Linked DNA regions of Homo sapiens. The protein of the gene in region 1 purifies or fractionates together with the protein of each later gene. This does not show direct contact. Each region holds a gene or a part of one and is shown in the gene's direction. Other genes may lie near its edges.

Region 1 (9,290 bases):
AAGGGCCTGAGACCCTCCCTTCCCAGGCCACAGAGGCCCACGAGGCCCTGCTGACATCGAGGAAGCTCGGTGCCCCAACCTTCAGGTAGAGCAGTAGAAAGGTTCAGAAACCACTCTGCCTGCACCGATGGGGTCCTCTGCACATGGCACCCCCAGAGAGCTCCACTTCCAGGAACAGGGAAGAGCAGGGCACGCCCTCCAGCCTGGGCGGATCCTGGCTCAGACGGCCTAGGTCTGACCCTAGCCCTGCTGAGTCACTTAACGCCCCCGTGCCTCAGTTTCTCCACTGGCAGGTGGGGTTAATCCCTGTCAAGTGTGTGTAACGTGGAGCACCGAAGAAACCACGCGTTCCTAGCCCAGTGCTGGCGCCCACCGGGGAGCAAACAAAAGGGAAACCACTGTGCCTGGCGGCTGGGGTAGGTCCTGCCGGCTCCTCGGGCTGGACGATCTCACTGTCCCCGTCCTGGGGCCTCATCTCCCCTTAACAAAAGACCCCAGGCTCAGGGCGCAGGGCGGCGGCCCAGCTCCTCCTCTCTCTTCGCCGGCTTGGACTCCGCCGTGACGGCGCCCACCCCTGCCTGTTTCTGCAGACCCTCTCCACCTTCCCGCAGCCCCGGCTGCTCCACGCCCCCTCCTACCAGCTGCGAGACACCAGCCCACGAGGGCGCGGGGCGCGCGGCCCGGCCGGAGATGGAGTCTGAGAACGGGCCCAACCTCAAAGGCACAGGGGGCGGCGCGGGGGCTGGCGTCTGGCCCTCACAGTGTCACGCGTGAGGTCGGGACGGAGCGTCCGCGCCTGCCTAGCCCCTGCCCTCCGGCCCTCACCTTCCGGAAGCCGGATCCAGCTCCTGCTCCCTCCATGACCGCAGCCTCAACGCGCGCCCACCGGAACCCCGCCCCGCGCCTCCAGCCAATGAGACCGGAGCGCGCCCCCGGAGCCCCGCCCCGCGCCCCTAGCCAATGAGTCCGAAGCGCCTGCTCTCGGAGCCCCGCCCCCACGTCTCAGCCAATGAGCCCGGAGCGCGCCCTCCAGCAGCCCCTCCCTCACGTCCCGCAGCCAATGAACTTGGAACGCGCCCTCCCGGGGCACCACCCTCACGACCCTCAGCCAATGAGCCCGGAGCATGCCCTCCCGGGGCCCCACCCTCATGCCCCTAGCCAATGAACCTGGAGCGCGCTGCCCCCTCTCAGCTTGCGGCCCGAAAGGCGCGCCAGTTCCTTTGTTCTCATTGGCCCGCACCAAGCGCTGCCTGCGCAGAGCCTGCTAGGAGTTGTAGTTCCCGCGGCCTCTCCCGGCGCGCCTTGTTCTTCCTGGATACTGAGGCCCCGACGCGGCTGTCGCGAGGGCGGGGGTCGGGGCTGCAGGCGGGGCAGGGCTGGGTGGGGGCGCGCGACGCACCTGCCTGCTTCCTGCACGGGTGGTCCCCAAGCACTGCGGGGCCCCAGCCCAAAGCGGACCTTGACTACCGCCCAGCCCCGCGCTCCCAGGACCTCCCGCCCGCGGAGCCCACTCGGATTGCTCTCCGCCCGGGTCGGCGGAGGCCCCGTCTCCTGTACCCGGCGCTGGGACTGCTCCGCACCGCGCGGCTCCCTTTCAGCAGCTGCGGGAGCATGCGGAGGAGGCCCTGCCGGCCCCGCGGGTCATGGAGGAGTTCCGGCGCTCCTACAGCCGCCTGTGCAGGGAGAGTGGGGCCGAGCCCCAGGAGGCTGTCCTGCAGCAGCTGCACCAGCTTCCCAGGGGCCGGCTGGACCTGGCCACGCAAAGCCTGACGGTGGAGACCTGCAGGGCCCTGGGCAAGCTGCTGCCGAGGGAGACGCTGTGCACGGAGCTGGTCCTGAGTGACTGCATGCTCAGCGAGGAAGGTGGGCAGGCGCGGCGGGGTGGATCCCTCTGCTCCTTAGCTGCCCACACCATTGCCTCGGCAGCCCGAGGTCGCTTCCTCTCCAGGCTCTCCAATTTCTGTGCCGTAGTTAAAGCGAGCAGGGGCGCCCCTTCCTGCACCTGGGAGTAGAGGGCAGTTCCTCTGTATGACGGGGGAGAGGCCTTAACATTCGCGGTCTTACCTGGTTCCCCGCGTGCAGAGCCGGCTTGGTGCCTGGCAGGGGCTGCAGGTGTTTCAAACATGACTTCGCAGCGAGACTCTTGGCCAGCGCCAACCCAGACCATCGGGACAGTTGTCCCTTCCTGGGTCTAGGGAGCTGCCCTGAAAAGGGGCCCACGGGGAGGGCCTTGGGGTCAGCAGGGGCAGAGAGTGACCGCCGGCCCCCCTTACACAGGGGCCACACTGCTGCTCCGAGGCCTGTGTGCCAACACCGTGCTGCGCTTTCTGGACTTAAAGGTGAGATACCTGCACTCTTGAGTGTCCGAGTGTGCCACCCAAGGGCAAGAGGAGAGGTGGAAGATGCCAGGTCTCGGGGGCCTGGGGTCTGGGCAGGTGGCTGGAAGCTGTCTGTGAGTCCCCAGGCCGCTCTCTGATGGCCTCCTGTGTGTGACCATCTCCAGAGCAAGAGTTCACATTGGCAAACAAGCCGGCCCTTGGAAGCCCCCTGAAGACAGGGAGCCCAGGAGCTGAGGAAGGCTGCAGGGTGCACCCCAGGCTTGTCCCCTGGCTGACCAAGGCCCTTGGGGCATGGGCGGGAATTCAGAGCCAGTCAGGGCACGCGAGTGACTACCGGCCTGTTTCTCTCCTAGGGCAACAACCTTCGGGCTGCAGGGGCCGAGGCTCTGGGAAAACTCCTCCAACAGAACAAGTCCATTCAGAGGTGGGTGGTGGTCCCGACCCCAGGCCCTGTCTCTGTGTGGTTGAGGATTGGCCCCGAGCACATGCTTCTGCAGCCCAAGAGTTCCCCATTGCCAGGTGCCCATGTTTCACATACGTTGGCAGGGGTAGGCAGAGGCTCCGGCCCATCAGACCCCAAGCCCACACCCGTCCCCAAGCCCTGGACCCCACGGGCTAGGCAGTCCCCTAGGTGAACACTGGCTTCTGCCCCTCCTGCAGCCTCACGCTGGAGTGGAACAGCCTGGGCACGTGGGACGATGCCTTCGCCACCTTCTGCGGGGGCCTGGCGGCCAACGGCGCCCTGCAGCGGCTGGACCTCCGCAACAACCAGATCAGTCACAAGGGCGCGGAGGAGCTGGCCCTAGCCCTGAAGGGCAACACCACCCTCCAGCAGCTGGGTGAGGCCTCCCAGGCGCCCTCAGGCTCCCTCATCCCTCTGAGGCTGCCTCTGCTCTGGGAAGTGAGGGGCTAGGGGACTGGCCTGTGCTCCTGCTCTGTTGATGACTGCAAGGCAGTGCCCCCTAGGGAAGCACCCCGGCCAGGCCAGCTCCCCCTCTGCCAGGTGCATTCTGTCTGGTGACTACAGGTTTCCTTCCAGACCTGCGCTGGAATAACGTTGGCCTCCTGGGGGGCCGGGCCCTCATGAACTGTCTCCCCAGCAACAGAACCCTGTGGAGACTGGACCTGGCTGGGAACAACATCCCTGGAGACGTCCTCAGAGCCGTGGGTACGGTGCAGGGCTGTGTGGAGTGACGCGTGAGCCTTTGACAGAGGCCTGTCCACCGAGGGCGGGGTGCCGGGCTCAGGACGGGAACTGATGAGGAGAGCAGCCTGAGAGCCCAGGGGAAGCAGGAAGGAGCGGAGGGGTCGTGGGGCACCTGTTTGGCACTTGAATGGCGTTCGCCACACATGGGCACTGTCCGAGGCGCCCTGTGTACTTGCTGAGTTCTTAGGACCTGTGCAGTGGAGGGTGCCCGTTTCACAGCTGGGGAAGCTGAGGCCGTGTGGCTCACAGTCCTGGCCTTGGTGGCTTTGCTGATGCTTCGGGTGGCCCAGGTCTTGGCCTTGGCCAGGAAGGCTCCCTGGTCACCCTGAGTCTGTGGCCCTGCATGTGAGTCAGGTGAGGTGGGGCCCCCTGGCTTGTGCTGGCCTCCACACATTCCCTCCCACCAGCGACCCCGAATCCTTGCAGCTGATGTCTCAGCCTCAGGCCCCAGTGCCCCAGACTCAGCTGGGGACTTTGCCAGGCCCCCCGTACTCCCTAATCCGCGCACAGCGGCAGCCTCTTCCAGCCCCTGTGCTGAGGGCTCATCCCTCCTGCTGGTTCTGCCTGGCCTCTGACTCCAGCTGCGCCGTCCCTGGCTTCGCCTCGGCACTGCCCTGGTTGTTGTCATCCCTCCTGACCTCTGCCCCCTCGCCACATGCTACCCAGATCTTTCCAGAACTGAGCTGGGCACAGCATTTGCCTCAGCATTGTGCAGTGCCCCTTGACCTTTGGGATGGTGGCCAGATGCCCCAGGATGGCCCTTGCCTTTTGCGGTGGAGCAGCTCCCACCACCTCTGCCCCACATGTGCACGCGCTCCCCAACACCAGGCGGCTCTTGCTCACAGCCCGAACCCCACAAAGCACTTCCACCCCCATGCACTGAGGGGGCACCCCTGACTTGCCGGGTGAGACGCTGCCCCACACGGCATAGATTCCCAAGCAGCCAGCCGCTGGGTGCAGGGCTGGTGGCCACCAGCTACTCCTGAGGCTAAGCAGCCCCGGGGTGACACAGCTCCTTTGTGTGTGTGTGTGTGTGTGTGTGTGTGTGTGTGTGACTGAGTTTCACTCAGTCACCCAGGCTGGAGTGCAGTGGCGCAATCTCGGCTCACTGCAACCTCCACCTCCCGGTTCAAGCGATTTTCCTGCCTCAGCCTCCCGAGTACCTGGGATTACAGGTGTGCGCTACCATGCCCAGCTACTTTTTTGTATTTTTAGTACAGATGGGGTTTCACCATGTTGGCCAGGCTGGTCTCGAACCCCTGACCTCAGGTGATCCACCCACCTCGACCTCCCAAAGTGCTGGGATTCCAGGCATGAGCCCCTGTGCCCAGCTGACACAGCTCCTTCTGCAGAGCAAGCCATGGGCCACAGCCAGGACCGGCTCACCACCTTCCAGGAGAACCAAGCCCGCACTCACGTCCTCAGCAAGGAGGTCCAGCACCTCCGGGAGGAGAAGTCCAAGCAGGTGAGGATGGCGCCTTCACTGACCTTGGAGCTGCTTATGGCTGGAGGGCCTGGCCACGTCCTTCCTCCCTCAGCCCCGTGGTCTGCCCATCTTCCCTTCCTCGGGGCCCTGGAGCCTCTCTGAGTGGCTGGTACCAGGAAGGAGGGGCGGCCTCCTGGTCTGATCTGCAGGTGGACTTCCTTGGGGAGCTGGCGTCTGAGCCCTGAGGCCTCGCTCTGCAGGGGCCACCCTTCCTGTGAAGGAGACAGGGCACCGTGGGTGGAACCCTCCGCTGCCTTGCCACATTGGTGGGCGCTGGCTCTCCTTCCCCCTGAGAAGGTCAGGTGGACAGGCTGCAGGTGCCCTGACAGGGCTGCGGCTGTCTCTGTCCCCAGTTCCTCGACTTGATGGAGACTATTGATAAGCAGCGAGAAGAGATGGCCAAGAGCAGCAGGTGAGCGGGCCCAGGGCAGGGGCAGGGTGAGGCTTCAGGGATCAGGTCCTGGCTCAGACTCAGATGGGACCAACCTGAGCCCACGAGTGAGGCCACGAGGAGGTCGCTGGAGGCTCAGTGCCCAGGCGACCATAGATGCTTAAGGAACAGCAGCAGCTACCGAGGCCAGAGGGGTATGGGAGCGCTCTGGGGTTTGGGTTACTCTCTGCACCCTCCTCTCTGCCCACAGGGCGTCGGCAGCCCGTGTAGGGCAGCTTCAGGAAGCCCTGAATGAGAGGCACTCCATCATCAACGCTCTCAAGGCCAAGTAAGTGGGGGGTGGCCTCAGGATACTTCAGAGACGTGCCCACAGGGCAGAGAAAGGTGGTGTGAACCTGTGTGCAAGTCCTGTTTGCAAAGCAGAGGTGGGAAATGGTGAGGCTGGGGCAGTAACCCAGAAGCCTTCCTGGAGGAGGCGGGTGCTGGCTGGGGTTGACTAGGTGCCCAGCAACAGTGAAAGCAGCGAGGCCTTTATAAGGCAAGTGAAACTCCAACCGGGGCGGGGGTGCTGCCCCTCCTTTCTGCAGGCTGCAGATGACAGAGGCCGCCCTGGCTCTGTCGGAGCAGAAGGCCCAGGACCTGGGGGAGCTCCTGGCCACAGCGGAGCAGGAGCAGCTGAGCCTGTCACAGAGGCAGGCCAAGGAGCTCAAGCTGGAGCAGCAGGTGGGTGGGCAGGGCTTGAGAGGGGTGGGCCAAGGGGTGCGTGGCGGCTTCGTGACCCTCACTACCCATACCCCGTTCCCCTCCCAGGAAGCTGCAGAGCGGGAGTCTAAACTCCTCAGAGACTTGTCTGCTGCCAATGAAAAGAACCTGCTTCTGCAAAACCAGGTAGCTGTGGTGGATGGAGCCAGGGAGCCCAGGGTGGGCGCGGCAGGGCTGGGCTGCAGCTTCCCTCCCTGGTGCCGGCTTTCAGGTAGACGAGTTGGAGCGGAAGTTCAGGTGTCAGCAGGAGCAGCTGTTCCAGACCAGGCAGGAGATGACCAGCATGTCAGCTGAGCTGAAGATGCGGGCCATCCAGGCCGAGGGTGGGCACGGGCAGGCCTGCTGTGGAGGGGCCTGGGGATGGGCACCGGGGGACGGGGGCCCCCAGGGGATGCTCACGCATACTCTGCCCACCCTGGGCTTCCAGAGCGCCTGGACATGGAGAAGAGAAGATGCAGACAGAGCCTGGAGGACTCCGAAAGCCTGCGCATCAAGGAGGTGCCCTCTTCGTTGGCCTCTAATGCGCCTCAGTCTCTGGTCTTGGTGTCACGCAGGTGTCCCCAAAGCACACACCTGGTGGGAGCTTCCCTTGCCAACCTTGGGTCACTGGGTGGCCGTATTTTGCCAGCCTGAGCGGATGTCAGACCCAGAACCTCCTATTGGGGGCGGCGGGGGGACCCCGGCAATGTCTGAGCCGTAGTACAGGCTGCCGTTGAAGAGACACCAAGGCCCACTCGTTCAGGGTGTGCATGCTGCGGTAGTTTCCTGCTAGGCCATCTGAGGCAGTGCTTTCTCAGAATGAACAAGGTTCTCAAGAGACACCTGCCTTTCAGGGTGGGGAGTCCGTGAGGAGAAGGTAGGGAGGCCCGCTCTCCACTCTGGCCCCACAATCCCTGCCCCTGAGCAGGTGGAGCATATGACCCGTCACCTGGAGGAGAGTGAGAAGGCCATGCAGGAGCGGGTGCAGAGGCTGGAGGCGGCGCGGCTGTCCCTGGAGGAGGTGAGTGCCCACCAGGCAGGGCCAAGCTCTGCCTTAGTCCTGGGCTGAACAAGGCAGGGGCCCCTGGTGTTCGCCGCCTCAGGACCAGAGACCTCTTCCTGTTCCCAGAGGCTCATAGGCCCCACCTTGGGGACCCACCCACCAGTGTGCCCAAGAAGCTAAAGGGACTTAGGTGGCATTCGGACTTCCTTGGCCTTAGGAACCTTGCCCAGCGAGCTAGGTGGCAGAGCAGCTGCGTGGCCCTCAGGAGGCTGGCAGAGAGGAGCCCCCCTGGCTGGGGTTGGCTGGATGGGCCAGAGAGAGAAGGGCCCTGGGCCAGGGACAGGAGAACGGGCTGGCAGGTGGCCATCTGTGCAGGAGCTGAGCCGAGTGAAAGCAGCGGCACTCAGCGAGCGTGGCCAGGCTGAGGAGGAGCTGATCAAGGCCAAGAGCCAGGCCCGCCTGGAGGAGGTGAGCCACACATGTCCGCCACCCTCCGGGGGAGCCAGGCTGCCCGGCATTGCGGCCCGCATGCAGACTCCAGAGCTTCGGTCTGAGTGGGGAGGCGGGAGTGTGGTGTTGAGGTCAGATGAGCACACCCTGGACACTGGTGGGTCCGCTTCAGCCTTGGATCAGGGCCTGAGACGGTGGAGAGGTTTGGCCCATCTCTGCAGCCTGTGACTACACGCATGGATGGATGGGAGGGGTGGTGTGACCGAAGAGGGAGGAGGAGAGCCCAGAGGGCATCTGGAGGAGGTGGCTGCCAGGGGAGCGGGTTCAGAGTCATAGTAACTAGAGCAGCCAGTCCTGCAGAGAGGTGGGGTCGTGCCCGTGCAGACATTCCCTCAGCTGAGCTCAGGCTGAGCCCCTCATGCTTCGTGGCGGCCCCTGTGCTCACAGCAACAGCGCCTGGCTCACCTGGAGGACAAGCTGAGACTGCTGGCGCAGGCACGGGACGAGGCGCAGGGCGCTTGCCTACAGCAGAAGCAGGTGGTGGCCGAGGCCCAGACCCGGGTCAGCCAGCTGGGCCTGCAAGTTGAGGGCCTGCGGCGGCGCCTGGAAGAGCTGCAGCAGGTAGGCGGGGCTCCGGTGGGGGGCCCCGGGCGTGCTAGCCCCCAACCCTCGCCTCACTCCCCAGCCTTCGTGCCTGGCAGGAGCTGAGCCTCAAGGACCAGGAAAGGGTGGCCGAGGTGAGCAGGGTGCGCGTGGAGCTGCAGGAGCAGAACGGCCGGCTGCAGGCGGAGCTGGCGGCTCAGGAGGCGCTGAGGGAGAAGGCGGCGGCCCTGGAGCGCCAGCTGAAAGGTGAGCCAGACCCTTGTCCTCCCGCCGCCCACTGGTGGGACGTGAGGCCAGCCAGAGAGCGGGGCTGGCCAGGTCTCCCGTGCTGAGGCCGTGCCACGGTGCGCTGGGGCTGCGTCCGCTCACTGCGCTCCTTGCCCTGCAGTGATGGCGAGCGACCACCGAGAGGCGCTGCTGGACAGGGAGAGCGAGAACGCGTCTCTCCGGGAGAAGCTGCGGCTCCGGGAGGCGGAGATCGCCCGCATCCGGGACGAGGAGGCCCAGAGGGCGAGCTTCCTGCAGAACGCCGTCCTGGCTTACGTGCAGGCGTCCCCCGTGAGGACCCTGAGCCCCCCAAAGTGAGACAGGCCGGGAGGACCCGGGCGCAGTAGGAGTGCATCAGGCGGCGCCCGAGATGGACCAGGGGCTGCGTCCCGCCCGCGCCGCCTCTTTGAGACCCGGGTCGTCTGTTCCACGCGGCGGTTGCGGCGACTGTTGGTGGTGTCGCGGCTGCGGGGGAACCCCGTGGGAGGCGCCTGGGAAGGGCTCCCTACCGGCCCCTTCTTCCCGGTCGACGCCACGTGGGAGCACACCGGGAAGGGGTCCCGCGGGCGCGTCTCCCCCTCGCCTTTTGCGATGTCACCGTGAACGCTGCGGCCGCCTGCGCGCGGCGGGGTTTGGAAATACAGCGCGTTTGCACTTTGTGATACATTCTGGCCCCGCCTCTCCCTCCAAACGCGCGACCGTCCGTGCCTCTCCAAACGCGCGGCCCTCTGCCCCCAGCCCTGCAGGGAGGGCCTGCCGGGGTGCGGCTGTTCGCCCCTCCTCGCCGCTGCCTTGAAGGGACG
Region 2 (9,481 bases), on another chromosome or scaffold:
TCCTTTCCGGAACCTGCCCTGGCTTGGGATGGTGGGAAGGAAGGAGAACAGAATCTGTTCCTCCCTTCCTGGCCCTGCGGTGAGAGGCGCTGACTAGTGTAGGTGGGTGGAGACAGGCCCATCAGAAGGCCTGAGTGAGGCACCCTCTGTACATGCAGCACAAGCGGGTGTGGAGTGTGGGGAAGCATCTAAAGATCTAGAAAAATTTGGCAGCAAAGGAATTTTACCCACACACTGGAGCCCTAGGCTTTGTTTCTAAAAGTTTTTATTATTCTTTAGGAAAACTTGGGAAGCACTAGTTTATGAAAATTTTTAGAACTTCATTGCTACATGGCCTTTCCAAACACATCCCCAGATGGTTTCTTTAAAACCATGCAGTGGGACAAGGTTGATATAAACAGTTGTTCCAGCTGAATCCAACTCACCAAAACGGTGCAGGTGAGGCAAATTACTTTTGAGACTGCAAGTACTGTATATGTCCATTAACAAAAACACAGTAAAAGACTTTAAGAAATTGTAAGGACACTGGCTTGACTGATTCATGCGGCTGCAAATCCCTGGGAGCCAAGATTCAAAGGCAGAAATGTCTGTGGTGACAGCACCACCACTGCCTTTGTCCAAATTACAGATCTGTCACACTCAGAGCTTGCTGCTAGCATGGGGCTGCCGTCGGCAGCAAAGGGAACTTCATGGATCTGTGAGGAGGAACAGCTGAGTTCCTGACTGCCTTTAATTTTCTCTGAGGCTTTGCTGAGTCACCTAATCTCTTGGGGCTGTGGTTTTCTCACCTGTAGAAGGAGGGACAGGGCTGATATCCCTAGAGTGCCTTTCAGCTCTGGGATTCACGCATTCTAAGGAGGGTGGCTAGAGCACAGAACCTCTAAAGATGTTCATTCATTCCTTCAACAAAGTTTACATGAGCACCTGCCATGTGCTAAGCACCAGGGCCGACCACTGGCCCAAAAACACAGGCATCTGCTGGCCTGCCCACTGCAGCAGCAGCCATACCTTTGCAGGCCGGTGGAGCCCCCCTTTCTACAGCCTGTGGAAAAAATGGTTCTAAATTTGCAGATCCTCTCATCAAATCAGGAAGTCAAGAAACATGATAGAATAGAGGAACTGGTCTCAGTTTGCACAGGCCATCAGTTTCACAAGACAGGAATCGAATATCAACAGTGGCTGATTATCACACTCAGGAATTGAAAATAATTAGAAAAAGAGGCAAAGATGCTGTGGCAATCATTGGCTGGTCCCCTTTGGTCTCCAGCACCCATTCCCCTTTGGTTTAGTAACAGCACCCTAACTTTCCTCCCTATATCGTGTGATAACAGAAGCACTCTCTCCAGGATACCCTCCCTGAGAGACAGGCATATGACCTGAGCCAGCCAATCAGACTCCTTCCCTGCAAGGATGCACTAGGTGGACAGCATGGTGGGAGCATCTCTCATCCAGGCAGGGGTGATCTGTGGGACTGCAGTCAGTCCTGTTGCTTAGAGACCCCAGGACTGCCATAGCTTCTGTCCTGGACTTGATTCTCCAGGCTAACAGAGAACCTGACTGATGCAGATTCAGGAGAGCTGGTTTGTTTAGTTCTCAGTTCCTTTCATGAAATGGCTATTATCTCTGCTAGCTACTATAGCAGAAATCTGGAAAACATGATTTTTCTTGATTTATGAAATTGTTGATGTTTCTTCAGGAATTTCCGCCTGCTTCTCATAAACTGGCAGAAACTTAGAAATGTTACATTTCTTAAAGAGAGTCATTGTAATTATTATCTGAATAAGATGATAGTGTTTTGAATTTAACGTAATAAACTCTATCTCCTGCCTTAGTGCCTTCACATCTTCATGTTGCCCCTCCCTCTAACAACATTTCTGAAAATTTGAAAGACATGAAGGAAGAAAAAGTGTTTTCCATATCCCCACATTGCCTTAAAGTGGACTTTGCAGAGGAAAATGTTCAAATATACAAGTTTTAGGTACTCTTCATAGCTCTTGGTTTTCTATTATTAGGGTTTGTTTGTTTGTTTGTTTGTTTGTTTTGAGACTGAGTCTCGCTCTGTTGCCCAGGCTGGAATGCAATGGCACAGTCTGCTCACTGCAATCTCCACCTCCCGGGTTCGAGCAATTCTCCGCCTCAGCCTCCTGAGTAGCTGAGATTACAGGTGCCCACCACCACACCCAGCTAATTTTTGTATTCTTAGTAGAGACGGGGTTTCGCCATGTTGGCCAGGCTGGTCTCGAACTCCTGACGTCAGGTGATCCACCCACCTCGGCCTCCCAAAGTGCTGGGATTACAGGCGTGTGCCACTGCGTCTGGCCTATTATTAGTTTTAAAAACATACATTCCTTTATTTTTACTTTTGTATTGTTTAAATACAACAGTACATGTTCACTGAAACAATGCAAGAGTGTAAAAAGTCCAAAGTGAAAGACCCCTCTCACCACCACTCCTATTTCCAAGGATAACCACATTGACAGTTTGCGGTTTAAACATACAGATATAGAAATATCTTTAAATAAAAAAACTTATATGAGATTATGCCATCTCATTTTCAAGTTAACATTGATAAACCTGGTCTTTTTGCTCAACTATCGTGGTCATCCTTCCTCATACATACGTATGTACATGCATACCGGTACACACATAGCTGGTACATACATACCGACTGACAAAACTCATTCATTTTAAGGCTGCAGATACTTCATTGCATGGGGATGTACCATCCTGTATAGATCTGTCACCCAATTAATCTGCCCAATTGATGCACATTTTGGTGGCTTCAAATTCTTTGCAGTTACAAACAGTGCTACCATGAATATTCTTATACAAATATCTTCAGGCCGATGTGCAACTATTTCTTAACTTGGATTCCTAGAAGTGCATTTGCTGGATCAAGTACATACACATTTTGAAATTTTGGTCAAGACTGTAAAATTGCCCTCCAAGAAGACTGTACCAATTCACTCTCCCACCTGCCATTTTTTTTTCACTGTATAATGACAGGGAGTGGTATATCCCTTTTGTTTTAGTTTGCATTTCCTGGATCATTCCTTAGTGAGACAGAGCAGAAGTGGATTATTTATAAGTTTACACACAAAATTACATTGAGATACAAAAAGAAGAAAAATACAGAGTTCCTCTCCAAAAGGAACTGATAACCTAGTTAAAGGGAAAATGTTTCATATTGACCACAAATTGAACTTTTTTTTTCTTTTGAGACAGAGTCTCGCTCTGTCGCGCAGGCTGAAGTGCAGTGGCACAATCTTGGCTCACTGCAACCTCCGCCTCCCGGGTTCAAGCAATTCTCCTGCCTCAGCCTCCCAAGTAGCTGGGATTACAGGCATGTGCCACCACGCCCAGCTAATTTTTGTATTTTTAGTGGAATGAGGTTTCACCATGTTGGCCAGGCTGGTCTCAATCTCTTGACCTCATGGTCCACCCGCCTCAGCCTCTCAAAGTGCTGGGATTACAGGCGTGAGCCACTGTGCCTGGCCACAAATTGAAATTCTTATGTTTAATGCCATGACATCTAACACTGCGTTCAATCAAAATGTCTACGCATGCAGCTTGAGACCTTTGCACAGAAGGTGCCTAGGGTCATGATTTGGGAAGATTAATCTGCCATCAGTGGAGGGGTGGATAAAAACTAATGTTTATTGGGATCAAGATGAGCAGTCTCTGTGCCAGAAACTTTATTCCTTTAATTTCCACAGCCCTGTGAGGCAGGTGAAATCATCCCCATTTTATGGATGAGGAAATTGAAGTTCAATTGGTTCAATAACATGCCAAAGGTCACTCAACTGATGAACAGTGGAGCTGAGATGCGGAAGACTGAAGACTCACAGCCTGGACTTTTAACCAAACACCACATGGCTTCGCTACAGAAGAAAGTTAGAAAGTTTTCAAAAATAAAATGTAGAGCCAAGTGCCACCTTGGATATAAGGGACTGGGGGACGGGAAGAGGCAAGAACTCCCAGGCTTCCCTCTGGCTGTCAATAGCTAGTGGGTCCTGGCAGTGGGAGCTGGGCCATCAGAGGTGGCGCCTGAAGTGGGGCAGGCACAAAATGGGTTTTCGGGCAAGCATTTGCCCAGGTGATGGTCAAAGCCACAGAAAAAAGGTGTTTTGATGGAGTGGTGGCTGAGTGTGGGGAGAGATGAGCAGGGGACCAAGCCTGGAGCTTGGGCAGCCCACGATTGGACACTAGGAGAAGAAAAGAAGCCAGTGGAGGAGACACTGAGGCTAGGGATGGGGAGGGCACTGTGGAAGGCTGGGCTCCACCTGGCGCTCCGGGGAGCTGGCAGGGGGGCACATCAAGGAGCTCAAGCTGCCTCACCAGCAAATGCCTCTGTTTCTGACCAGGGGCAATGAAATAAAGGGACCCGGTTGAGTAACTGGTTTCTGGTCCCTGCCAGCCCAGGAAGCCAGCACCCACCCTGCCTTACATCCCATGTGCCACTCTCAGCCTTCGAAGCAAAACCAGCTGAGACCAGCACCTGCCAGATCTGAATGCGCAGCTCCAAGTTCTGGGGGGTGGGGGTGGGGGTGAGCCAAGGAGGTCTGGCTTCTCTAGGGCAAGGGTAGGAAGGACAGCAGGGAGGCTCACCCTGAGCCCGGCAGGCAGCCCTTCCTCCTCCTCCCCTTCAGCAAAGAAAGGCAGATAAAAACGTGTTTTTATAAATAGCTCCAGCCCCAGCTGATTTGTAAATTCAGTGGGTTTTTTGTGTCAATGACATCACCTTCCTCCCCATGGCAACCCCCGACGATATCAAAATTGCCAAGCAACGTTGGAGCAGCTCGGCGCCCCAAACGAGCAGGTCGATGCCTGAGGATTTAATGGAGAAATCCCAAAGTGAGCCGGGGCGCGCGGTGGAGGAGGGGCGCGCCGCAGCCGGGGCCGCTGGGCCCTGATGGGCGGGAGCGGGGTGGAGCGGCCTCGCCTGCCAGGCAGCCCTGGGCGCGGGGCTCGGCGGCCACACTCTGGAGACAGCCACGGTCCAGGCAGGTGGGGGAGGGCGCTGCTCCCGTCCTGATGTGCCAGGAGCCGCCAGCAGCCATCCAGGTGACTAAGCCGGCCCACTAGCACTGAGTCACCGCCCGCCTCGAGCTGTTCTTGCTTCTCCTTTGCATCTGATTATTTTGGGAGCTGGAAACTTGGAGCTGCACCTGAGTCCCGCCCCTTCTAGCTCTCCCCTCCCTACCTTGGGCTCCAGGAAGATGGGACTTGCTGTGAGTCTGCTGCCACCCCCTAAAGATATGGAAGACGCTGTGGGGGCCAGAAGTGCCCGGGGGGCTGTGGCAGCAGGCAGAGTGCAATAGCAGATATGGTGGTCAGGCTGCCTGTGTGTGTCCTCTGGAGGTGTTGGGACAGAAGGGCAGTCTTGTCCGAGCTGACTGGAGTCCTCCCGGGCTGGCTCTGAACTCATCTCCCACGGGGATGTTTCGGTAAAGGAGTGGCTTCTGGGGTCGGAGTGGCATTTGGAGAGCGAGGCTGGATTGGCTTAGGCTGGCCTGGGCAGGTAGGTGGCTCTGTGTTGGGTGTGGACCCACGTGTGTGTGAGTGCGAGAGTGTGTAAGCCAGTGTGTGTGCCGTCCCCCTGCTGGGGACAGCAGCTGGGTCCAGCAGAGAGCTGGCTGGGGGCTTGACAGGAGTTTATCCTAACTGATGCTGGGTGGGCGCAGGCCCTGAGATGGGCGTCAGGGAGAGGGGACGCCAGACACACGGCCTGAGCAGGGTGAGGAGCAGCTGCCAGCCCCGGCAGGCCCAGGCCCTGTCTGGGTGCACAGGACAGAGACACAGCAAGATGCCCAGGTAGGAAGCCGTCCGGAGGGGCTGGCCAGGGTGAGAGCCCATCACTGGGGGGCTGGACAGCCCATCAGCTGCCCCTTCATTCTGGCAGGCCTGGGTACCAAGGAAACAGCTTCCTACCAAGAACCATGTCACTCTCTTATGCAGGGCCAGTCAGCACCCATGTGCGTCTCTGCTGAGCTCACAGGGACACATTCAGTGAGAAGGGTGCTGGCCAGGGTACGGCTTCCCCATGATCAGGACCCAGCGGGTGCCACCCTCAAGCCCCTGGTCCCCACAGGGCATGCCCCAGTGTGTGTCAGGAGGAGGGGGGAGGTCCCTTCTCCCCCACACAGCTGGCAGCTTTGCGGGCACCAGTGAGTAAGCTGCCAGAGGGAGGGAGGCTGTGTGCCCACAGTGGCAGGACAATACCAACCAGGAGCCTTCAAGAGAAGAGGCTGGGTGAGAAAAGCACTGAGGTTTTCTTTTCCTTTTTTTTTTTTTTTTTTTTTCTATTTTGCCTGAAGGGAGTGCCGCTTCCTGGGCTAGAGACAAGCACCAGCCTGCAGTGGAGAACGCAGGACCCCGCTGCCCAGAAGGAGCAGCCACGGTAAGGTCCCCACTGCCGCTGCGTGCTCCGGATTCCTGGGCTAGGGACGGGGGTGCCAAGGTGTCCAGGCTGCCTCCCACCTGGGACAGGGAGGCTAACTCCACAGCTGTGGGTTCCTGGGTCAAGGGGCTCCACTCCCCACCCGGCCTGCCACCTTCTTTCCAGATTGATTGTGAAACAGTCCAATCCCAGCTGGTCTCTGGCTCCCTAGCTAGAGGGAGAGGTGCTTGTTTCTACTCTTCCTGCCCCAGCTGGGCCAAGCCAGTGCCACCGGGACACCCCTATCCAAGGCCCCTCTCACTTTACCACCTCTGGGACATTTCCCTTGTGTATTCATTCCACAAATATTTAGGGAGCACTGCTGGGTCCCAGGCTCCAAGTCACACCCTTTGGCTGGGTTTGACCTGGCACAGATTCTGACTCTGAAACTCAGCATCAGGGCAGGTTCAGGGAGCTGCCTGGCCAAGCACGGTCACTCCTCACAGGCCTTGGTCTCCCCACCCCTGCTGCAGGGTGGATGACCTGGTCAGCTTTGGGGACATCGGGCCCAGTGAGCTCGGGTTTATAAAGCACTGGGCCCCACCGGGAAGCAAGGCTAACGTCTTGTGGTCTCCAGTTATCCTTTCCCTGGCATTGTACACCAAGAGGTTTGTGCCGTTCTGCCTGGGGTCTTCCTGAGGCTGGTTCTGGTGGGAACTGGGCTGCAGGAGGAGAGGATGAGCTTAGGAGCCGTGTGGCCCCCAGGCCTGGTGGGCCTGGGACTCAGCCCCACGGGAGCTCATCTAGCTGGGGTTGAGGCCTTTGGGGCAAGCAAGGAGTCCCCTCTGCAGGCAGGCTTCCCTGGCGGTTGTCCTGGCCCAGGCTTGGAGGTGGCACCTGGGAGCCCTAGTGACAGAGCGCCTGGTCAGGGAAGGGTCGGCACCAGAGGCAAGCCCTTCTGGGAGCAGCTGATTTGGATGGAAGCTCTGTGCACCTGAGAGGGGGAGTGTGGGGACTGCACGGCCTCTCCAGTGCCCCGAGGACAAACTGATGCTTTGTGAGTGCTCTGGGCCCTCCCGGACTTGCCAGACACAGGGAGGGTGCAGTGGGTGGGGTCTCCAGCCAAGGAAAGCCCGCTCTGTGCACAACTCCTAAGGATGACCAAAAAGTCCCCTGCCCTGGAGGAGCACATGTGCTCAGAGTCAGGAGGAACCCATAAGTGTCTCTCATGCCAGTGAATTCCCACACCTGGCTCCTGGATGAGGAGAATGACCCAGCTGTGGGGGTATCTCATGCTGCCTCACAAAAGGTGACTCTGTGCCTAGGAGTCTTCCATGCATGCAGAGCTGAGCAGGGGCTGCTGCCCAGTTGGGGTCAGAGGGGCGGAGGCTGTCGAGCACTAGGTAGACAGCAGGCCAGCAGCGGGCAGCAGGTTGGGCCAGGAGGGAGCAGAGAGTAGGGGCCAGGGCAGGCTGAGCAGGAAAGGAAAAGGCTGCCTGGGGTCCTGAGGGCTCAGGGAGGACTCCAGACAGCTGGCCTTCTTATGCCAGCCCGCTTCTGTGGGAGAGGCCCTCTGCGTAGGTGACTGGGCAGGGAAGAGGCTAAGACACTGAAAGATTGAATTCCTCACCCAAATGGCCCAGAGATGCCCACCGCACACAGTGTCCTGGGTGCAGAAGGCAGGAAGGACTCATGGGAGGCTGTCCTGTGGACTGAAGCAGAAAGTCCTTCCCGTAAGATGCGCTCGTCGCCCTGAGCAGGAAGGCCCAGGCTGCGGAAGCAGTGCCTGAGACCTGAGCAGCAGGAAGGACACCAGTAAAGCTCATCAGGAGGCATCTGGCCGCCTGCACCTACCGGGCCTCAAGGAGAGAGCTTATTTCTGGGAGCCTCCTTGGTAGAAAGAGGTGGACTAGCCAGCAGGTTGGGGAGGAGCATTGCAAATGGAAGCTTCTGAGGGCAGAATGAGTTCTGAACTTGCTGAAGCCAAGGCTGGCCCTCCTGCCCAGGGCGAGCAGTCTGCCTGGGCCTGGGAAGTTGTCCCCTTCTGAGGAGGTGCCCTCCACCCCACCAGAGCTCAGCCCTAGGGGCCAGGAAGGGCTAAAGCGAGAAGAGTGAGATGTGAGATAAAGGGGACCGTGTCTCTTCCTGGGAGGGTGTGGGGTCCAGGCAGCACCTTGTTCTGGCGCACAGGCTGCCAAGCAGATGACAGCCATGGCCTGACTACTAGGTGCAAGCACTGGTGGCAGGAAGAGGGGGTGGACAAAGCAGGACAGAGCTCTTGCCCTGGGGATGCTCATAGCCCTGCAGCAGAGCAGTGGAAAGGAAAGCTGAGCTGAGCGTGGGGCCAACCGCGCCAGAAACAAGCGGAGCCACAAAGCCACCATCAGCCCCCAGGTGGCTTCGTCCTTTTGCCAACTCTGGGTCCAACTCATCGCTGAAGTTGGCAGCCATGACCCATCCAGCCCAGATAATTTATAAATTTACACCAATACTGGGCAACGGTTCTTAACATAGAACTTTATAAAGATGGACAAAAAAGATAAGTTGAGAATGACAAACAAAGGAAGAAGCAGCTTCTATCTGCAGTTGCAGGAGGAGGTGAAGGCTCGGGGAGATAGACCAGGGCGGGAAGAGGCAGGATGGTGGTTGGTTAACATGAAGTCAGCAGCATGAGCCTCAGGCCCGGTGCTGCCTCTTCCTGGTGACTCGGGCAAGTTACTTCATGTCTCTGGGTCTCAATTTCCTCTCCTGTCCAACAGAGATAATTATAGTACCTATGAGTTAGGGTTGTTGAGAGGATTAAATAAGATAATAAGTGAATGCTCTGAATGGCATGACTGGCACATACGTACATGTTCAGCAAGAGATAACTATTATCACCGTGATGATAACTGGTGTCAGAGGAACAAAGTGCCAGGAGAGACCATACCTTGTTCGGGGGAATCAGGAAAGGCTTCACGGAGGAGGTGACTTTGAAAGAACCCTCCTCTGAGGAGAAACAAAAGCTCTCAGAATGCCCAGGAAAGCTGGGAAGAAACAATAATGCCAGGTCTATTTTTTTCCCAAATAGCATATTGTTTGTCCACTGAGGCTTTCTAAGGA
Region 3 (9,498 bases), on another chromosome or scaffold:
ATTAGCTTTGGGAGAATTTCAAAGAGTTTGAAGTTACTTAGATTTGGGAAACCTGAAGGGCAGTGGTGTGTCACTATCTGGTGTGGCCTGGCCTTCAGCCTCTCAGCCCCTTCCCTCCCCACCTCTCAGAGCTCAGGGCCAACTGCATCTCTGAAAGAGCCCAAAGACCTTGTTGAGGAGCAGGGGGATCCTGGCTGAGCCTGCAAGCCCTGGGTCTCTTCCAGACTTTCCTGCCTCTAGCAGCTGCTGCTCTAGGTGGCCATTGGTGGGCTGCATTTGCTCTCTGCTTGCAAACATTGATGACACAGGTATTTTGGGTGTGGTTTAGTAGTGGCCCGACACAATTTTGTTTCCAGTTTGTCACACTGACAAGGTTTTAACCTGACAAATGTTAAACACAAATTATAGGAGGCCATTGTTTTAGACTAAGCTCTTGCACTAGGCCCCAAAAGACAAGACTAAAAATAAAAATAAAGTCACCCATGCTAACGTTTCAGGTCACCAAACTTACTGGAAAGGCGTCCTGATCCTGAGCCCTAGAGAAAGTTCTTGGATCTCCTACAAGAAAGAATTTGGGGTGAGTCCACAGAGAACAGTAAAAGGAAGTTTATTAAGAAAGGAAGGGAATAAAAGAGTGGCTACTCCATAGGCAGAGCATCCCCAAGGGCTGCTGGTGGGTATTTTTTATGATTACTCTTGAATATGTGCTAAGCAAGGGGTGGATTATTCCTGAGTTTTCCAAGAAAGGGGTGAGTTATTTGGTTATTCCCCCTTCCCTTTTACAAGGGAACCCTTAATCCTAAGGGTTGTAGAGTCAGGAAATATGTCAGCAGGAGTCGACTCAGAGACTCTTCATCTTGAATAGGAGCTGGGTAAAATGAGGCTGAGATCTGCTGGAGTGCATTCCCAGGAGGTTAGGCATCCTTAGTCACAGGATGAAATAGAAGGTTGGCAGGTGGTATCACAAGATACAGGTTACAAAGACCTTGCTGATGAAACAGGATGCAGTAAAGAAGCCAGCCAAAACTGGCCAAAACCTGCCAAAAACCAGCAAGGTGAGGAAAACTACCTCTGGTCTTCCTCATTGCTCATTATTCGCTAATTACAATGCATTCTCATGCTAAACGACACTCCTACCAGCACCATGACAGTTTATAAATACCATGGCAACATTTAGAAGTTACCCTATATGTTCTAAAAGGAAGAATTCCTAGAAAACTCATGAATAATCCACCCTTATTTAGTATATGATCAAGAAATAACCATAAAAATAGCCAACCAGCAGCCCTAGAGGCTGCCCTGCCCATGGAATTGCCATTCTTTTATTCCTTTACTTTCTCAATAAGCTTGCTTCTTTCACTTTACTCTGTGGACTCACCCTGGCCCCGAATTCTTTCTTGCACAAGATCCAAGAACATTCTCTTGGGGTCTGGATTGGGACCCTTTTCCGGTAACAAAACTAAAACTAAGTTGTTAATCTACCTTCAGAGAGAGAGAATAGCAACTTCCTAACCAGGCCAGTTTCAGTCTTCAGTCTGAGGCAGCAAAATAGGGTCTGGAGGCAGGGAACATAAGGCCGATTCACACTTTAGCTATGACAGGAAATAGCCTCTGCGTAGGCCAAGTAAATGACTTTGTAACTTTGCATCATCCCTTTCATTTACATAGTGTGTGCCCCAAGCGGAGGACATTGAAACTCCCCAAAATTCTGGAATGGGGCCTTTGAGCCCCTACGCTCAGGCCCGCTCCCACACTGTGGAGTGTACTTTCATTTACCTTTTTTTTTTGAGATGGCGTCTCACTGTGTCACCAAGGCTGGAATGCAGTGGCATGATCTCAGCTCACTGCAACCTCTGCCACCCAGGTTCAAGTGGTTCTCCTGCCTCAGCCTCCCAAGTAGCTGGAATTACAGGCACCTGCCACTGTGACCGGCTAGGTTTTTTTTTTTGTTTTTTTTTTTTTTTTACTTTTAGTAGAGACGGGGTTTCACCATCTTGGTTAGGCTGGTCTTGAACTCCTGACTTTGTAATCCACCCGCCTCGGCCTCCCAAAGTGCTGGGATTACAGGTGTGAGCCACTGCGCCTGGCCGTACTTTCATTTTCAATAAAACCCTTAATTCCTTCCTTGATTTGTTTGTGTGTTTCACTCTTGTCACCCAGTATGGAGTGCAATGGCGCGATCTCGGCTCACTGCATCCTTCGCTGGGTTCAAGCAATTCTCCTGCCTCGGCCTGCCTAGTACCTGGGATTACAGGCACGCGACACCACGTCCAGCTAATTTTTTGTATTTTTAGTAGTGACGGGGTTTCACCATGTTGGGCAGGCTGGTCTCGAACTCCTGACCTCAGGTGATCCATCCGCCTCGGCCTTCCAAAGTGCTGGGATTACAGGCGTGAGCCACCACTCCCGGCCCAACCCCATGTTTTCTCAGGAACTGGAGTTCCCTTTAGGAAGCAAGTAACAGAGGTGCTGGGCTGCCCGGGCCTCTAGGTCGTCTTCTTTCCCAGGCTCTGTGCTCTCACCAGAGTGCGCGTTCGGGAAGCAGGGAGAGGACCAGGAAAGACGCCTGAGACGGAGAGTGGGCACCGGCCGGGGGCAGGCAGGTCCGGCCCCTGGGGGTCAGAGTGCAGCGCCGGTTTGAGGCAGTTCGGCCACTTAGCTGCGACTCGAAGTGAATGAGTCACTTCCCCTCCTCGGGCGAGCTCCTGGCTTTGCCCCAGCAAGCGGGAACTCCCAGGATCAGGAAGGTCCCAGAGAAACTCCCCAGGGGGGAAGCCGAGGCCGTCCAGAGAGATCCAGGGTACACACAGTGACAGTGCCAGCTCCACATTCCCGACCACCGGGCCAGGGCTGGTTCCACGCTGTCATTTCTCTCCGCTGGCCCCAGCCGCGGGGCCACCGCCAGACAGACAGACCGGGGATCCTGCCTGGCGGCGTGACCTTGGGTTAGTCCTAGAGCCGCTTCTAGCCCGGTTTCCTCCGCCCCAGGTTAGGACCACGTGGGTAAGAAGATTTCCTCTGTAGTAGGGGCTGTTTAATGAGTAACAGAACTGGCTGCTGGTTCTTTACAATTGCCCAGCTGCTCTGCAGAGGCGAGAAGCAATTGCGGGCTGAGCCTCCCGGGACCTTCGCGGGAGGGTGGAGAGGAGGAAGGCGGGGGAGGCGGGGCCAGAGGGGCAGAGGAAGGTGGGGGCGGGCGGGGCTTGTCTGCGGGATGGCCCAGGATGCGGTCAGCTGAGTTCGCCGGCCCAGGGCAGGCGGGGCCCGAGCCTAGCGGTAACCCCCGGGCAGGGCGGGGCCGCTCGCAGACTCCATATGAGATTCACCTCGCAGGTGGTTCCCTCATTCGAGTGCTCCGGCGCACAGACCCGCGCCCCGCCGTCTGCGAGCCTCCCGAGAGCCGTCCCTTCGTCCGGCCCTGGAGCATTGCGTTTGTCGCCGGTGTCGCAGTGCGAGGATGGCGCCGCGGGTGTAGCGGCTCTCTGCGCAGGCCGAGTGGTGAGTCGCCCGCGGCCCGGCTCCCGCCGTTCTCTCTTCCCAGGGGTCTAGCCCGTCCCCTGCCTTGGCCACGTGCCCATTTACCTGTAGGGGCGGTGACGGAGGCTCTGGTGCACCTTGGCTGTGAGCTGCAGAGGAGCAGAGAGCGGCCCGGCGCGGCTGCGCGGGGAGGCGGGCGCGCGGCCGGGAGGTTCTGGGGCTGGTGTGTGCGGAGCGAGGTGGGCGTGGGGGAAGCGCGCGGGCGGGATGTGCTTCCTCGGGTCCACCCCGTGCCTACCTCTCCCACGTCCCGGCGACGGAGCGCGCGGGGCTCTGGGCGGGGAGCCCACCGGGCCGAGGCGCAGCGAGGGTGAAGCCAGAGCCGGCAGGGTCAGGTCCCGCAGGGCGCAGGCGGGCGCTTCTCGCAGCCCAAACCCGGGCGGGGAGTGCGGGAACCCCTAGAACTATGCTGGGAGCCCCAGATAAGAGGAAGGAGATGGTGACTTAAGTGACGAAGTGATGTTTTGTCCCCACCGCCTTTTAAAGGGAGAAGGGGGTAAAATTTCATTTGGAGGATGATTGTTACGCGAGCTTTCAGAGTTCAGATGGCGTCAAGTGGCCATCGAGTCAACATTTAACAAAATGTTACCGCATAAAATATTGTCATCGAGTTATCTGGCAGCTCCGCAGAGAAACTTCACAGGCATATGCGTTATATGACATAATTTGCATGGGGAAGGGGGTCCCTTCACGATTCTTTTATATGGCAACCTGTTCTTGGACCTGGCAGGGCCCAGAGAAGCGAGGAACTCCGCAGCTCGTCGACACGTCTCGTCTCCTGTCCCAATTCAGGGCTTGGTGAGGTGACTCGCGGTCGCGGGTGACTCGCCGGCAGGACACTGCCTGGAACGCCTGGAGCGCCTCCCACTGCAGACGTCTGTCCGCCTCCAGCCGCTCTCCTCTGACGGTCAGTTTCAAAGAAACACAGTCTGGGATCCGGAGTAGAAAGAGGCCGTTTCCCGTGAAGGCCATAGAGGCAGTTTCCAGGCGCCTGGGTGACCTGTCTCTGCACTTCCCTCTCTGCTTCTCCATCCCTGTTTCCTTTCCCCACTGTCCCCTGCCTGGCCTTTCTTTGGCTCATTTTCTGCCTTCCTGGGGTCTTCTGGTTAAAAAGACCATTGGTTCCATTCATTGGCTGTAACCGCGGGTCTTTAAAAAACTTTGTGACTTCCTTGAATAGAAAGAATGTCTTACTCTGGATTTCTACAAGCGCTGCTGAGCCATTCCCAGGGCAGGCCTTTGTCTCTCCCGCCTTTCAGTTTGTTTGCCCATCTGCATTTTGGCCCAAGCTTTCCCCATTTCTCAGCTGCTCTTACATTATTTCTTTTTTCAGAGGCTACCCTGACCTTCTAGTCCTCTGCATTAAACCTCATCACCGCAGACCGTTTTAATTCAGCACAGGTGTATCGAGCACAAATTATATTCTTGGTTCCAATACTTTCAGCACTGGTGGGCATTCATGTTTCATTTAAGAAGGATAAATTAGTGTTTCTTTACATGGGCTTTTTGTCAAAGTGGAATTTTGTTGACTTTACTGATCTTAAAATTAACGCAAACTTATTGTAAAAACAAACAAACAAAAAAACCCAAAAACCAAAAATCAAATATATAACAGAAAATGAAACTTCTAGGTTTTCCTCTTCCCTAAAGATAAACAACAAACATTCTTCTTCCTTCTCCTCTCTCTCTCACACACATTTGCTTTTGAAATATGTTCATTCAAAAAAGTATTTTAAATGTTTACAAGCTAAGTTATTTATGCAAGTAACTTACCAATCTGATTTGAGTTTAACGGGTTAAAACTAAAAAAAAAAATCAAAAACATCTTCAGTTTTTTTTTTTTTTTAAGTAAGATGGATCTGGCTGGTAATAGGTAGAGAGCCCCAGGTGATCACCGAAAAGACTCTTCCTTGGGGAGCCAAATCCTAAGCCAGGTTTAGGATTTCCCTGGGAGGTAGAATTTGCAGCCCAGGTAAAACCAGCAAAACTCTCCTGTTATGTGGGGAGGGGAGCGAAGAGCATGGCTTTCTAGAGAGGTGAGAGAAGACTTGTTGAGAAACTGAATTTCATTTCCTTACGGAAGTTGGAGAACATTGTGGTACAATGTTAGGAGAAAGGTTTTCTAAAATCAGTGCAGTCTGACATCTTCAACACCAGGGTCTTTTCCACTGGAGCACTGCAGACATCTGCAACTTTCTCTGCCTACGTGGGTGTGGTTAAATAGACCCTCCCTGAGTGCAGGGCTGAAAAGTGGAGAGAAGTTAGTTCTTGGGACACTCACACCCAGGAGGGGGGATCCTGCAGGTACTAAGATTGCAAAGGGAAAGAGAGAGTGAGGCTGGTCCTGGAGCCCACTAGGAAGGAGCCAGCGGAAAGCAGTGACTGGACAAGGGAACTGATTTCTCTGCTGATGTGGCCTTGGTTTCTCTGGTTCAGAGTAAAGAAAAGCAACCAAACCTAGAGAGAAACATCCTTACTCTACAAGGCCAGACGGGAAGTTCTGTCTTTGGCTTGGTTTCCTTTTCTACAAACGGGGTTGGATTCTCTCTGGAGAGCTTTCCGGGGGCCACTCAGCAGTCTCTGATTCAGTGGGATGTTCTCAGCTGCTGGCCCAAGGGAGCTCACCTCTTAGCTCTTCCCCTGCCTGGTTCACTGGGGGGCTGCTCCCTCCCATTAGCTCCCTACCCCTAAAGACAAAAATAGCAGCCTGGAGGGGGCAGAGTTTTAGGGGAGGTTGTAAGAGGGCACATTCTTCAGAGGAGCCACTCTTACGGGGGAATGTTCCTGCCCCACAGAAACTGGCCCTGGGGATCAGGACTCTGCCTGACCCTAAACCCTACTTCTTCCCTCAGTCGGTAGGTCTGCTTAATGGATCCTGAAGAAGGCCTGAAATCATGACCAGACCCCTACGCCCCGGGATCCTCCTGTAGTGCCTTTTGATAAGAAGCACTGCCCTGGCTTCTCTCTCCTCCTTCCACATGTGTAGGGAGAGGTAGCTCTGCCTATTCATGAAGCTTCATCCCTACACTGTCCTTCATTTGGCCCCTGGTGAACCGGGGGCCAAGGTGTGATACCTCTTTTAAAACTCATTCCCTTCACACTGGTGTTGTGACTCATGCCTGTAATTCCAGCTACTTGGAGGCTGAGGTGGGAGGATCACGTGAGCCCAGTAATTTGAGGCGGCAGTGAGCTGTGATTGCACCACTCCACTCCAGCCTGGGTAACAGAGTGAGACCCTGTTTGTTTCTTTTTTTTTTTTTTTTGAGACAGAGTCTTGCTCTTTCACCCAGGCTGGAGTGCAGTGGCATGATCTCGACTCACTACAACCTTCATCTCCTGGGTTCCAGCGATTCTCCTGCCTCAGCCTCCCGAGTAGCTGGGATTCCAGGCATGCGCCACCACACCCAGCTACTTTTTTGCATTTTTAGTAGAGATGGAGTTTCACCATGTTGGCCAGGCTGGTCTTGAACTCCTGACCTCAAGTGATCTGGCCTCCTCGGCCTCCCAAAGTGCTGAGATTAGGGGCGTGGGCCACTGTGCATGGCCCCCTGTTTCTAAAAAAATGAAGAATAAAGTGTTGAATTAAAAAAAAAATCAACAACACCACACCTTATTCCCCTTCTTAGCTCTCCTTAGCTGGACTGCAGTAGGCTGGGATTTCCAAAGAAGTGTTGTGTAAATGCTAAGGGAGAATGAAAGCCTGGTGGAGAGATTTAAGGCAGCAATTGGAGGGAACATTTTTCTCCACACCTAACAACTGTAGTTTTCCCTGGCATTCAAAATTTGCTGGAAATGATCACTATATTATGGTAATAATAAATCCCATTCTCCAAAAAGGGACCTTTTGGGTTTTAGCTTGGTGACAAGAGACTGCTGAGTTACGAAGGTGAGAACCGTGTGGTGGAAACAACTGGCTTGACCTCAGGAAAGCAGCTTCACTTCACAGACTCCTACTGATGTCTTTATGAGCCTTGGATCATCCTGTAGACCCAGTGCTTCACTCTCTTCCTCTCAGCATGAATCCTGCCCACTCTGCAAGGCTTTCCAGGGAGTTGGGGGCCTGGCCATTACAGGGCATTTGGGGATTTGTTTCTTTATTAACTGAGTTCAAAACGTGAGTCTCACCCTCCTTCAAAGAGCTCTGGCAAAACCCTGCCCTTCTCCACACAGAGAAGTGGTCTTGGGGGTTTCTGACTACTGAGCCCTAGTAGAATAACTTCAGGTACGCCACGTTTTTCCTTCATGGGACTTTGCAGTGGAGACGGGGCCGTGGGCTGACTCAGGTCAGCCTCAGTCCCTCTCCCTCCTATGGTGGTCCCCTGTCCCCGCTGCTCCCCCTGGAGCTGATAACTTTTACCCATCTTTGACCCAATTCTTCCTGGGGAGAAGAGCATCTGAGATTCTAGAAAAGTGAGGCAGAGGCCAGGCGCAGTGGCTCACACCTGTAATCCCAGCACTTTGGGAGGCCGAGGCTGGTGGATCACCTGGGGTCAGCAGTTCGAGAACAGCCTGCCCAACATGGTGAAACCCTGTCTCTACTAAAAATACAAAAATTAGCTGAACATGGTGGCGTGTGTCTGTAGTCTCAGCTACTCGGGAGGCTGAGGCAGAAGAATTGCCTGAACCTGGGAGGCGGAGGTTGCAGTGAGCCGAGATGGCACCACTGCACTCCAGCCTGGGTGACAGAGCGAGACTGTCTCTATTAAAAAAAGGGAGGCAGAGAGGTGTGGTGTGTTGGGTCAGTGAGTCTTGACTTGCTGAGCTGGGAAATTGGGAATAAGGGACAGGTTTTTGTTTTGTTTTGTTTTGTTTTTTGAGACGGAGTGTCGCTCTGCAACCTCTGCCTCCCAGGTTCAAGCGATTGTCCTCCCTCAGCCTCCTGAGAGTAGCTGGGATTACAGGCGCCTGCCACCACACCTGGCTAATTTTTGTATTTTTAGTAGAGATGGTGTTTCACTGTATTGGACAGGCTTGTCTTGAACTCATGATCTCCACCCACCTTGGCCTCCCAAAGTGCTGGGTTTACAGGCATAAAGGGGACAGGTTCTCTGGAGGTGTGAGGTGCCTGTCCACTTAGGCTTTTGGCACATTTTCAGCACCTCCTCTCTGAAACTAGCAATGCTATAAACACACATACACACTCTCCTCTCTCTCTGTTTCTATTTCTCACACAATTCACACACTTACATCAGGTGTGTAAGGAATTCCACTTCATTGCACTGACTTTCTACATATTAGTGGGGCTCTGCACGATCTTGGTTTCTACTGAGTGGATTCACTCCATTCTGTGATTTTTTTTCCTTAGGGTCCTGCCTCAGTTGGCGGAATGGCGGCCACGGGAGCCAATGCAGAGAAAGCTGAAAGTCACAAGTAAGGCTCCATTTCATTCCAGGTTGGGTTGGGTGGGGTTGGGTTGTTTATAGAGCATATGTTGTGCCACACATTTTTCTAAGGACTTGACATATATTAACACATTTGATGCTTGTGAAAGAGACTGAGGCCTGGAGGGATTAATGACTCAGGAGGTTCGTACATTAGATGGTTAAAGACCTCCGGGGTCGGGTGCTGGGGCCTCAGCTCTTGATTCTTAGGACATGTTGTTTCAGAAAACCAGACAAGTCCCTGCTCAAATCTCTGTCTAGTAGGTTTTTCCTCTATGTGCCAATTTCTTAAACAAAATCCCCTGCTTATCACTCAGCTCTGCCTTGGTTCTGAATTTTAAATGCCTTCTTATTTCTTTGCAGTTTGTCATACTTCTGGTATGCTTGGCATGACACCACTTGTGTTTAGGCATTGCTAGAAAAGCAAGAATTTCTTGTCTTCATTCTGATTCCTATGTGAACTTTAATCCGCTGATTATTCTTATTTTCTCACCCCCCCAGTTGTCTCCCACCTCTGCTGGGGTTACCTGGGCAGGCCTTCTGTCCTGCCGCCATGGCCTCTCCCCAGTCTTGGTGGCCT

What was found.
Region 2: the proteins of LRRC45 (region 1) and PAK6 purify together in Homo sapiens (affinity purification with mass spectrometry, with the first as the bait; one large-scale study listed by BioGRID). This does not show direct contact.
Region 3: the proteins of LRRC45 (region 1) and UPP1 purify together in Homo sapiens (affinity purification with mass spectrometry; one large-scale study listed by BioGRID and IntAct). This does not show direct contact.

Annotation. Positions count from the first base shown.
Region 1 is NC_000017.11:82,022,001-82,031,290, forward strand, and holds LRRC45 (leucine-rich repeat-containing protein 45), read left to right. Parts: upstream 1-1,304; 5' UTR 1,305-1,643; coding exon 1,644-1,863; intron 1,864-2,277; coding exon 2,278-2,339; intron 2,340-2,692; coding exon 2,693-2,763; intron 2,764-2,999; coding exon 3,000-3,178; intron 3,179-3,378; coding exon 3,379-3,507; intron 3,508-4,898; coding exon 4,899-5,011; intron 5,012-5,385; coding exon 5,386-5,444; intron 5,445-5,673; coding exon 5,674-5,751; intron 5,752-6,010; coding exon 6,011-6,146; intron 6,147-6,233; coding exon 6,234-6,311; intron 6,312-6,396; coding exon 6,397-6,508; intron 6,509-6,612; coding exon 6,613-6,683; intron 6,684-7,018; coding exon of another isoform or gene 7,019-7,045; exon of another isoform or gene 7,046-7,092; coding exon 7,093-7,185; intron 7,186-7,542; coding exon 7,543-7,635; intron 7,636-8,064; coding exon 8,065-8,238; intron 8,239-8,318; coding exon 8,319-8,466; intron 8,467-8,608; coding exon 8,609-8,805; 3' UTR 8,806-9,151; downstream 9,152-9,290. Other genes in the region: CENPX (centromere protein X), read right to left, coding at 826-861. UniProt on the Homo sapiens protein: Component of the proteinaceous fiber-like linker between two centrioles, required for centrosome cohesion.
Region 2 is NC_000015.10:40,234,282-40,243,762, forward strand, and holds the start of PAK6 (serine/threonine-protein kinase PAK 6), read left to right. Parts: upstream 1-4,781; 5' UTR 4,782-5,521; intron 5,522-5,581; exon of another isoform or gene 5,582-5,814; intron 5,815-6,317; 5' UTR 6,318-6,400; intron 6,401-9,481. UniProt on the Homo sapiens protein: Serine/threonine protein kinase that plays a role in the regulation of gene transcription. The kinase activity is induced by various effectors including AR or MAP2K6/MAPKK6.
Region 3 is NC_000007.14:48,085,921-48,095,418, forward strand, and holds the start of UPP1 (uridine phosphorylase 1), read left to right. Parts: upstream 1-3,344; 5' UTR 3,345-3,498; intron 3,499-4,267; 5' UTR 4,268-4,444; intron 4,445-8,842; 5' UTR 8,843-8,863; coding exon 8,864-8,907; intron 8,908-9,498. UniProt on the Homo sapiens protein: Catalyzes the reversible phosphorylytic cleavage of uridine to uracil and ribose-1-phosphate which can then be utilized as carbon and energy sources or in the rescue of pyrimidine bases for nucleotide synthesis.